2 linked regions of the Homo sapiens genome follow. The protein of the gene in region 1 interacts with the protein of each later gene in a biochemical or structural test. Each region holds a gene or a part of one and is shown in the gene's direction. Other genes may lie near its edges.

Evidence for each region. Proteins that work in one complex are often made in the same cells at the same time.
Region 2: the proteins of TOPORS (region 1) and UBXN7 form a complex in vitro, tested with the Homo sapiens proteins (one study listed by BioGRID).

The regions. Positions count from the first base shown.
Region 1 is NC_000009.12:32,542,583-32,549,614, reverse strand, and holds part of TOPORS (E3 ubiquitin-protein ligase Topors), read left to right. Parts: intron 1-5,288; coding exon 5,289-7,032. UniProt on the Homo sapiens protein: Functions as an E3 ubiquitin-protein ligase and as an E3 SUMO1-protein ligase. Probable tumor suppressor involved in cell growth, cell proliferation and apoptosis that regulates p53/TP53 stability through ubiquitin-dependent degradation.
Region 2 is NC_000003.12:196,347,142-196,352,439, reverse strand, and holds the end of UBXN7 (UBX domain-containing protein 7), read left to right. Parts: 3' UTR 1-4,778; downstream 4,779-5,298. UniProt on the Homo sapiens protein: Ubiquitin-binding adapter that links a subset of NEDD8-associated cullin ring ligases (CRLs) to the segregase VCP/p97, to regulate turnover of their ubiquitination substrates.

The DNA.
Region 1 (7,032 bases):
CTTCGTGTTCACGTAACATAGAGAACATTGTTGAGTTCTTACTGTGCATCAAGCACTGTGCTAAGGGTTTTTATGAAATATGTCCCGTCACACAACCACCTTTTCAATTCCATTTTAGAATTGAGAAAACGTGAGATTTTGAGAAAAAACTTCCTCCAGGTTACACACCTACTAAGTGGTGGCGATTCTCAGCCTTGGCTCTGCAGCAAAATTAACATCACTCCCGCAAATGTAATCAGCAGATGATTAAATTTTATATACAGTGTATGCCATAGATGACTTTTGATTTTTATTGATTTATTTTTTTTGAGACGGAGTCTTGCTCTTTCGCCCAGGCTGGAGTGCAGTGGCGCAGTCTCGGCTCACTGCAAGCTCCGCCTGCCAGGTTCACGCCATTCCCCTGCCTCAGTCTCCCGACTAGCTGGGACTACAGGCGCCCGTCGCTACGCCCAGCTAATTTTTTGTATTTTTAGTAGAGACGGTTTCACCGTGTTAGCCAGGATGGTCTCGATCTCCTGACCTTGTGATCCGCTCACCTCGGCCTCCCAAAGTGCTGGGATTACAGGCATGAGCCACCACGCCCGGCCATAGATGACTTTTGTAGTAAGTCTAACTTTAATTCTACAGAGCAGTTATACTTCGTTTATATCATTGTGCAGTTTTTCAAATATCCAGTCTCCTGAAATGTAGATTCGAGCTTCCTGATTCTTTATCTCCCCCATCCATTTTCCCTAGACGTGTGTCCATATTAATTAGCTGAAATTTCCCCGAATTGTTATTATCCTTGTTAAAGCCAGATTTGAGGATTTTTCGGGAAAGGGAAGTTTTGGCTTAATCAGTTTATACTAAAGATGGTGAACTTCATTTAGGATTTGGGAGACAGTTTAGGAAGTGTGACTGGAAGAACTGATTGTCTCCTGTGAGGAAATGTCCTAATTCCTAGAGTGCTAGGATGGAAAACCCGTAACACAGGCTTCTTACAGAACCTGAAGCACTGTGTTTTTCATCGGGTCTACCTTTGCTACTTAAATTCAGAACGTCTCTTGCAGATCAGCCACTCTTTTGTGTGTGTGTGTGTGTTTGTGTGTGAGGCAGAGTTTCGCTCTTGTTGCCCAGGTTGGAGTGCAGTGGCGTAATCTCGGCTCACTGCAACCTCCGCCTCCCGGGGGTTCAAGTGATTCTCCTGCTTCAGCCTCCCGAGTAGCTGGGATTCCAGGCATGCGCCACCACGCCCGGCGAATTTTTGTGTTTTTAGTAGAGACCGGGTTTCTCCATGTTGGTCAGGCTGGTCTCGAACTCCCGACCTCAGGTGATCTGCCCGCCTCAGCCTCCCAAAGTGTTGAGATTACAGGCGTGAGCCACCGCGCCCGGCCAGCAAATCAACCACTCTTAATCTGTATCTAGTCATCCCAGTTTTTATGCCTTAATTTGTATTTTTAAACAGCTTTGTTAAGATTACATTCCGGGCTGGGCGCGGTGGCTTACGCCTGTAATCCCAGCACTTTGGGAGGCCGAGACGGGCGGATCTCAAGGTCAGGAGATCGAGACCATCCTGGCTAACACGGTGAAACCCCGTCTCTACTAAAAATACAAAAAAAAAAAAAAAAAAAAAAAATGCCGAGCGTGGTGGCGGGCGCCTGTAATCCCAGCTACTACTGGGAAGGCTGAGGCAGGAGAATGGTGTGAACCCGGGAGGCGGAGCTTGCAGTGAGCCACGATCGCGCCACTGCATTCCAGCCTGGGCGACACAGCAAGACTCTGTCTCAAAAAAATAAAATAAAAGATTACATTCCATCCATAAAGTTCACCCGTTTAAAGTTTGTAGGTCAATGATTTTTTAGTATATTTACAGAGTTGTACAACCATCACAATAATTAATTGTAGAACGTTTTCATCACCCCAGAAATAAACCTCTTTACTGCCCCAGCAGCAGCCACCAGCCTCATTTCATCTCTCTAGATTTGCCTATTCTGGACATTTCATATAAAAGGTATCATACAATATGTGGGTTCTTGTGAATTTTTTTTTTCATTCATTTAGCATAATAAAAAGTTTCATCCATGTTACAACATGGTACCAGTACTTTGTTCCTTTTTATTGCCAAATAAAATTCCATAGTGTGGATAGACCACATTTTATTAGTCTGTTAATCAATTGATGGGTATTTGAGTTTCTCCTTTTGAGGTATTATGACTAAAGTTGCTGTGAATATTCATATACAGTTTTTTTGTGTGGACAAGTTTTCGTTTCCCTTGGGTATATCTAGGTGTGTAATTGCCGGGTCATATGTTCGACTTCATTTGCGTTTTAAAAAACATTTTAATTTAGTATTTAGTGATGATTTTGAAGAGCTAATAACTTATTTGATCTACATGCATTCCAATTGTTTGATGTTTCTTTTTCTTTTTTAAAATAGAGACTGGATCTCGCTTTGTTGCCTAGGCTGTTTCAAATTCCTGGCCTCAAGGGTCTCCTGCCTTGGCTTCCCAAAGTGATGGGATTACAGGCGTGAGCCACCGTGCCCCGCCTCTTTGATGTTTCTGATGAAGACTGTTTGTTTGTTTGTTTGTTTGTTTTGAAACAGGGTCTCATTCTGTCACCCAGGCTGGAGTGAGGTGGTGCAATTATGGCTCACTGCAGCCTGGACCTCCCAGGCTCAGTTAATCCTCCTGCCTCAGCCTCCTGAGTAGCTGGGACTACAGGTGTGCCCATCATGCCCGGCTAAGATTATTCTTTTCAGCTAATGATTCCTGTGTAGAAATACAAGAATGAATTCTAATTTATTATTATTTTTTAACCTGTTATGGAGGACATTACCAGTCATTCATTCACCTTTTACTGTCAAAGTGGTTAACAGGCTTATAAAACTAGAGAAGGGAAGGGTAAGGTTTCATTTTTTTAAAAAAATCATACTTTGTTGAGATTTTATTTTATTTGAACTTCAAGTTTACTACCTAATAATTCCCTTTAATAAATTCATTTTCAGCTGTAATTTTTATGTGAACTGGAAGTGTTCAGAAAACACTAAAATTCTATTTCAGAGAACTAAGTGAAGATAAAATGTATTAACTTGGAATTCACGGGTCTTTTTTCCAAGTCCAGTAATCCCTTCATTATATAGAGGAGAAAACTAAAGTCTAGAGTAATGTGGTTTTCTTCACATTAACTAGAGCTAGTTCTAGGTGAAGCCTGGTCTTCAGTCCAGATCTTTTGATAACCTCTTTGATTCCCTCCCAACTTTTCTCTGTTCCTTCCCTCTACCACACACACAGTCTCTGAACTGAAAGGTTTTTATTTTTATGTGTGTGTTTCTTTAAATTTCTTGAGTAGGCAGATTAAAAAATGTTAAAAGTAGAGGGAAATGCTGAGAAGGTTGTGCAGTATTAGGGTTTTAGACTGTTTATGAACAAAAAAGCAGTATTATGTATTTATAATCCTGCTTTTCCAGACCTTCCAGGACAGTGATGATGTTTTTGCATTTTCAGTCCAGTAAATAGAAGACTAGACATACCTGGACCCCTGAAGAAACGCTTATTTAGCATTAATTGATTCTCTATTAAGTTATGGTTCTGAGAAAGCCAAGATGCCCTAAAGTGAGCAGGTTTAATATGAAAGCTATGGTGGAATACTTGTATTTCAGTCATGAGTTTTTGTTGTGGGTTTTGTTTATTGGTTTTTCTTATAGTTTGTTAAGGCCAATGAGTCTATTTAGAAAATTACAATTCTGTTATTTGATTAACTTGACCCCAGTTGACTAGTGATGGAACCTCCTGTGATAAAGGAGGTGGAGGAAGATGAATATTAGGCCCTGGGAAACCAAGGGCCTAGTAGTTTTTTGTTGTTGTTTGTTTATTTGTTTTGAGACAGAGTTTCACTCTTGTCACCCACTGCAATGGTGCAGTCTCAGCTCACTGCAACCTCTGCCTCCTGGGTTCAAGCGATTCTCCTGTCTCAGCCTCCCAAGTAGCTGGGATTACAGGTGCCTGCCACCATGCCCGGCTAATTTTTGTATTCTTAGTAGAGACAAGGTTTCACAACGTTGGCCAGGCTGGTCTTGAACTCCTGACCTCAGGTGATCTGCCTGCCTTGGCCTCCCAAAGTGCTGGATTACAGGCATGAGCCACCGCGCCTGACTCCCCAATAGTCAATATACTCAAAATGATTAGTATAAAATGCAGCTTTGGAGTTTATGAGATAAAGTCAAAACGCATACTAGATTTCAAGCTCTAGCAAAGTTTTGAGCCAATGTAAACTGATAAAACAAACTAATCTTTAATATTCTAGTCATCCTTATGGGAAAGGATAATAGGGAAGGGGACCAAAAACATGATTTCAAGATATTCTGTGGCCTGACTTTTGGATTAAAGAAAAAAGCTAAAGGAAGGCTTATTAGGAATGCTGAATGGAATGAGTGATTAACTGAATATAATAGTGTAGTAATAATAACAGCTGACATTTACTCAGCACCTACTGTGAGCCAGGCACTGCCTCTTGGCTGCTTTTTCATTTATTATTTAATCTTCACTAAAAGTTTCCTCTCCCTTTTTAAAATTAGCTTTCTAAGGTTGAAAAAAGAATCTTTCACTAAAAATCATAGGATTGGTTTAAACAGGTGAACTTTCTGGTATGTAAGTTATGTCACCAAAGTTGTTTTAGAAAAGTACATACAAAATATCACAGATAAATCAGTAGTCTGTATTGTTAGTGGCATATGTATATGAAAGGTATAAAGCCATGCATAGAAATAACATCAACTGAGGAGTGTGGTGTTTTTGTTTTTTGTTTTCTAGAGAGTGATAGGAGGGGAAGATAAGGGGCATAACATAAGTGGTGGATACATGGGTATTTGGTACTTTTTTTTTTTATATGTCAGATATTTCTCAAATTATTTTTAAAAAGAATAATAGAATGTTACATAATATTTGAGAGCTTTACTATGTAGCAGGTGCCTTTTCTAAGGGCTTTTTACATCTTCACAAACCCTGTAAGGCAGATTCTGTTATCACTGACCTGCAGATGAAATTAAAGCACAGAGATACTAACTGGCACATAGTCACGCTGGTAGTGTGGAACCAGGATTCAGTCTTAGGAAATCTGACTTCAGAGCTTATGCTTTAAGCACTATATTACTATGCTACAGTGCCCCTTTATAAAATAAAACAAAAGTAATGGGTCACTTAAGTATTTTCACCAAAATAAGTTTCAAGGTCTTTATTTGCATTTTTGTTGAGACTATTTAGTCATTCCTCTATTATCAGGTTACTGATATATTTCTTTCCCTTTTACAGATAATGGCATCAGCTGCTAAGGAATTTAAAATGGACAACTTTTCACCTAAAGCTGGCACTAGCAAATTGCAACAGACAGTACCAGCTGATGCATCTCCTGATTCTAAGTGTCCTATATGCTTGGATAGATTTGATAATGTGTCTTACTTAGATCGCTGCTTACATAAGTTCTGTTTTCGCTGTGTACAGGAGTGGTCAAAAAACAAAGCTGAATGCCCACTATGTAAACAGCCCTTTGATTCTATTTTCCATTCTGTGAGGGCAGAAGATGACTTCAAGGAGTATGTCCTAAGGCCTTCGTATAATGGTTCTTTTGTCACCCCTGATCGACGATTTCGCTACCGTACAACTCTGACAAGGGAACGAAATGCTTCTGTGTATTCACCTAGTGGTCCTGTGAACAGAAGAACAACAACTCCACCGGATAGTGGAGTACTGTTTGAAGGGTTAGGCATTTCAACAAGACCTAGAGATGTTGAAATTCCTCAGTTTATGAGACAGATTGCAGTAAGGAGGCCAACTACGGCAGATGAAAGATCTTTGCGGAAAATTCAAGAACAAGATATTATTAATTTTAGACGAACTCTTTATCGTGCTGGTGCTCGAGTTAGAAATATTGAAGATGGTGGCCGCTACAGGGATATTTCAGCTGAATTTTTCCGTAGAAATCCAGCTTGCCTTCACAGATTAGTCCCCTGGTTAAAACGTGAACTTACAGTTCTTTTTGGAGCTCATGGATCTTTAGTGAATATTGTCCAGCATATTATCATGAGTAATGTTACTCGCTATGACTTGGAGAGTCAGGCATTTGTGTCTGATTTAAGACCATTTTTACTTAATCGAACTGAGCATTTTATACATGAATTTATCAGTTTTGCCCGATCTCCTTTTAACATGGCAGCCTTTGACCAGCATGCCAATTATGATTGCCCTGCTCCTTCATACGAAGAAGGCAGCCATTCTGATTCTTCAGTCATAACAATATCTCCAGATGAGGCTGAGACCCAAGAGCTGGATATTAATGTAGCCACTGTTAGTCAGGCACCATGGGATGATGAAACTCCAGGACCATCTTACTCAAGCTCAGAGCAGGTACACGTTACTATGTCTTCTCTTTTAAATACTTCTGACAGTTCAGATGAAGAACTTGTCACAGGAGGAGCCACGTCTCAGATACAAGGAGTACAAACCAATGACGACCTAAATAATGACAGTGATGATTCTTCAGATAATTGTGTCATTGTTGGGTTTGTTAAACCACTAGCTGAGAGGACCCCAGAACTTGTTGAACTGTCCTCTGATTCTGAGGACTTAGGTTCTTATGAGAAAATGGAGACAGTGAAGACACAAGAACAGGAGCAATCTTACAGTTCTGGTGATAGCGATGTTAGTAGATGCTCATCTCCACACTCTGTCCTTGGAAAGGATGAACAAATAAATAAAGGTCATTGTGATTCTAGTACAAGAATCAAATCAAAGAAGGAAGAGAAACGATCTACATCATTGTCATCTCCCAGAAACCTGAACTCATCTGTAAGAGGAGACAGAGTATATTCTCCATATAACCATAGACACAGAAAGAGGGGAAGATCAAGAAGTTCAGATTCACGTTCTCAGAGTAGAAGTGGGCATGATCAGAAGAATCATAGAAAGCATCATGGGAAGAAAAGAATGAAAAGTAAACGATCCAGAAGCAGGGAAAGTAGCAGACCTAGAGGGAGAAGAGACAAAAAGAGATCAAGAA
Region 2 (5,298 bases), on another chromosome or scaffold:
ACCCCATCTCTACTGAAAAATACAAAAATTAGCCAGGCATGGTGGCTGTCTGTAATCCCAGCTAATGGGGAGGCTGAGGCACAAGAATCTCTTGAACCTGGGAGGCGGAGGTTGCAGTGAGCCGAGATCACACCACTGCACTCCATCCTGGGCAATGGAGCGAGACTCTGTCTCAAAAAATAATAAATAAGATATGATTCCTGCCTGTTTTATCCAGTTAGAGAGACACACTACACATGAAATAATTGGAGAGCATGTAAATGTTTACCTATTAGTTCAAACTTAGAAAAAGGGAAGAATATGTTTTAGTTAGCAAAGTCTTAAACAAGACTGAAGTGGCAAGCACTGTAGCTCACGTTTTCTTTTGACTCACCTTTTTCTTTAGCTCCACCTTTTGTAACTTCTAGATTTGGGGCATGAAGTTCTGCCACTAAGGCATAACCAGTACCCAAGTAGGAAAGGATTATTGATCCCTGGAGTAAAGATTCCTAGCTTGCGGGGATCTCACTATTGATCCCCCGGAGTAAAGATTCCTAGCTCGCAGGAATCTTACTTGCACACTTAGGGAAAATACCAGAGGGAGCCACTAGCAACCGAAAAATGAAGGAAAGATTTAATTTCTCTACCCAGGTACAAATCCAATGCATAGTATAGTATATGTTATATGCAGAAAGGGCACTGGAGGTGTGAGAGCCCTTTGGGTAACAGCTCTGCTAGTTGTTACCTTCACACTTCTCTTTCTTCTTAATCTCTGGTTTCTCGTCTGAAAAATGAGATAATTGGACTAGATTAATAGTTCTCAGCCTTTTCTAGAACAACAAATTAGATTATCTCTGAAGTCCTTTTCCAAAATTTCATGCTTCCAGTCTCTCCCCGTGATTGCGTATTATCCCTAGGCTAATTAAAAGTGTGCTGGTTAATCAGTTTCTTTACTTTTTTTTTCTCTCTTTTTTTTATTCTGTGTTCAGGTATCATTTGACCAACAACTTGCTCTTAATCTTACTGCGATGACTGAAATCTCCAAAGAGGAGAGTATAGTAGTTATAGGTCTAGTAATAATAATCTTGTAAACAATTCATTATTTTTTAAAACTTAATGCTGTGTGCCTAATCAGTGTTGAGTATGACTAAAATGTAAATGAGAACCAAATATGACACTAACGCTGGCACTAAATTTTATTTTTACTTGTGTACTTAAAGTACTTTACTGGCCTGTTGGGAAATTGATTTGTATAAGATTCACACCTGGTTTTGGCAGAAACAGCTTTTTAAAGATACAATTAGGCTGACTTAAAAATGTTTTTTATTCCACAGAATGTATCTTTATTATGTCATTCTTACCGTCTCTCTGCCTTTTTTGACCATCATGTAACTACGCAGTAGTAAATCATGGGGTGCAGGCTGATGAATTAGTAGTCTTTGTAAAACTAAAATGTAATGAGCATAGGAAGAGACAGCTCTTCTGGTGAACATGGCAGTTTTCCGGTAATACCAGCCTTGATGAATAGGCTAAAGACAGCTGTGTACTATGGACATTCAACTTCACTGGATTGCCTGGCTTAGCTTTTCAGTTATTGTCTTGCCGTGAAACATGGTGTTGCACTGTACACATTTTAGAATAGTGGCAAGAATGTTCTTTAGAACTGCAGATAACCCAACAGAGAATACCATACCAATATATCGGTTTCTCCTGTTACATAGAGATTTGGTATTTCAGTGATGGTTATGGTTTTTGACTCACCTGTGTGTCAGTCCTGCTAGAGAGACAGTATAGAATCAAGAATTTCTTGATGTCTTTTTAAAAATAGAGATTATAATGGCCTTGCTAGTTGTCCTGTGAAGTGACAGACCCTTAATTAGAAATCTTTTAATCCTGCTTTCCATTTTACTTCTCCACCATTTATTTTTAACATTCATTCTCTGAAAATAGTTATGATTTTTAGTGTAATTGGCTATGTTTAAGAAATTCCATTTCAAAGTCTTAATATGTAACAATCTTCATTTTTTATAAAATTGAAGGACATTTTTGAGGCAAACTTACTTTTATAGCTCATTTTCTCCCTAGTTAAGGAGAATTCTCTGGTTTCATATAGAGAATGGCTAGCTCTGTGATACCCCACCCTCTTTGTGGCCTACCAGTTGCTGTTGTGTTGCTTAAAATTGCAGATATTCTCATAAACATGATGATTTTTGGCACAGGCCTTTCTTTGCTATTGATTTCAAAATAAAGTTGGGCAATCCAATTTGAACTACTTTAATAAACATAATTTAGCATTCCTGTAATGAGAAAGTATTTTCAAAAGATAACCAGATTTATTTCTAGGATTAGAGATGGCAAATACCAATGATAGTATTTTTCCCAAGAGCAATCACAGATTAATCTATAAATATGAGAAGTCGCATTATTGTACTTAATTCTTTGGCAACAAACAGCAAGTTTTTATTGTTTAATTGTATTTCCTCTCTAGAGATCACAATACTCTGGGTATTTTATATCCCTTCTAAAGGTCATTTGGGTTTTCAAATGGGAAGAATAGTCAAGCTAAGCTGGACTAAACCTAAGTAATATTTTTTCTCATCAAAAGAAGTTATTAATCTAACTGGGTTAGCATGAGTCATTCATTTTTTAGACATGATAAATGGGAAACATATCAAATCATTAGATAAATTCTGACCTGGAATTGAATTCCCCCTTTCTTAAAATCTTTTTAATTTGCTTTTTTCATAGACTCAGTATGGAACTCTTAACTGATAAGGGAGAGATTCTTGATCTGGAACCGTTCCCTGCCATTCTCCTTTTTTCTCTCTATCTAGGTAGCTGGTTCCATAGTGCCCGTCACGAGGGTCCATTTCAGTTTGATGACATTAGACTGCTTACACTCAGCTGGATGCCTTGCTGTTTGCAGCAACATGATTTTACAGTATGCTTTTCTCAAAGCTTTGCATTCTTAATGGAGATATCAAATGGTGTAATTCCAAATATAAATATGTTTATGACACTAATCATATGCTTTTAACAATAACTTTTTGATAACTTATTGCCCTGTAAGTTAAACCTTACACGGAGTGACTGTTGCCATCAGAAAATCCCCTTTCACCTGCTAGAGAGAGTGAAAGTAGTGCGTGGCCTCCACTTTTCAGTTAACGAGTAGCAAGCTTCTAGTAGGGGCTGCTTATCTGACCCATGTGGGGTCTTGGGCCTTGTTACTTTCCTGGGTTCGTCCCTTCAGCTGGAAAGGCTGTTGAAAACACTTGCCAGGAAACAGTAAAGCTGTGAGAGAATCTTCTAGTCTTAGATATAGAGAAATGAGTACCAGTTGATGCTAACACGATACTTAGACTTTGAGGGGCTTCCATCCAAGCTTTGGCATGAATCTGTTAGACACGGTTTTCTTCACTCCTCTGATAATCTTTTTTTCCAGAATGGTTTTTTGTTGTTGTTGTTGTTAACAAATTCTAAACATCCAGTGTTACTTTTTGTTTTGTTTGTTTTGTTTTGTTTTGTTTTGTTTTGTTTGCCCTTCAGGAAAGTCCTTTTTCGAGTAGGTATTGATTGTTCCCTGGAAACTCTCAGCAGTGTCTGTGCAGGCTCTGTGCATGCTTTGTATGAGTTCGGCTTGAACAATGCATTTGAAGTCACCTGGGATGTCCAGTTCTGGCATGTCTTCATTGATTGTGTTTTTAAACATGTTTCATGTTTCATGTCATTTTCCAAACCTCACTTTACATCTTACTCAGAGAAGTTAATCAAGGAATGAAATTTCTAGGGGGATAGGGATGATGAGGGTGGGTTGGGGGCTTGAGTGAAGTCAACTTGGGGTATTTGCTTTAAAGTGTTTTCTAAAGCAGTTCCTAACAGTATTTAGAGATTCCCTGGGATGTTTGTGGCTCAACTTATTCTGGACAAAGTGTGTGTGGGGGTGGTCTTACTGAGATTTGCATTCTTAATGCAGGACAGGCTCTAAATTTCATCTGTACTCTAAATTTGTGATTGAATCCAAGAAGATAACAGAGACAGTGCTCCTGTTGTAATGTTTCTGGCAAGTGCTCCCTAAAATGCACATCGAATTCTGTTTTCTGGGCCTTTTCTCCAATGGTGCTAGGAGATACCGTTGATTTCTGCAGCTCTTCTCAGTGGTGGGAAGAAGTCTTTGGGATTGTTGAGCAAGGGGCAGCTGGACCATCCACTAAATTTTTTTGTTCAAGACACATTAGAGACCCTCCTGTATATCTAGTAAGTCATAATAAAGGTGCTTGGGAAAGCCTTAAATTTGAAGACACATGGAGGCGGTAGAAAATTAAACTTGTAAGAGGAGAAAAACATGCCATTAGGTAACGCAGAGTTGTAACTACTGGCTAAGACTCAATGGAACTTCCACTTGCTCTAAAACCAGGGAAATCTTAGATAACTGGGTGTGATCTACCTATAGATCTACCTAGTCTATAGGTAATAATTTCCAGAAGGAGGATCTTGCTGTCAGTTGGGGATCCTCTGGTTTGGTCTGTACCAAATTGTGAATACTCTTGCTGTGTTGTACCCAGTTGCTTTATATTAATACTGCAACTTGAAACGGGGAGGGTGGGGGGACAATGGGGTGGGGGAGGGAAGGGAGTGGGACGATAAGTCTTTTGAAGACATCAGCTCACTGTGCTGAGAGAGGGACCAAACTCAAGGAAACCTCTGATCTATACATTCAACTGCTGCATTTTTTTATAAATACATGTAAATGTCCTGTTGTAATATTTGATCTTGGAAATAAAAACAAAAACTTTTCAGTATTAGTTTTTTTTGTGTTGTTGTTTTTACAAGATAAGACTCTGGATATTACTTTCAGTAATACAATTGAGATTCCAAAAGCTTGCCCCCTCACGTTCTCATTTAGGTCAGTTACTATTGATTGACAAAGGTTACTTTGTAGTCCCGTTGTTATGTGTAACGTTTGCTAGCCTTTTTTCTGCTCTTTGTGGTATGTCAAACATTCATGGTAAACACTCTGTAAATATTAGTCCAGTTGTTACAGAAACATTGGGTAAGCTAGGCTTGTTAGGTAAGTATGATTCTGTGTTTGACATACTTGGGCGAATATTCAGTGTCTGTTCTTTCAGACCAGCAGTAATTACTAATGGTTAATTAAGGACTTAGCTTAATTGAAGGAAAGATAATTACTAAATTAATGGGCAAAAAGGAGATACGATTATATGGTATGACAGAAATTGTTATTGCTGCTGGATGCAGTGGCTCATGCATGTAATCCCAGCCCTTTGGGAGGCTGAGATGGGCGGATCACCTGAGGTCAGG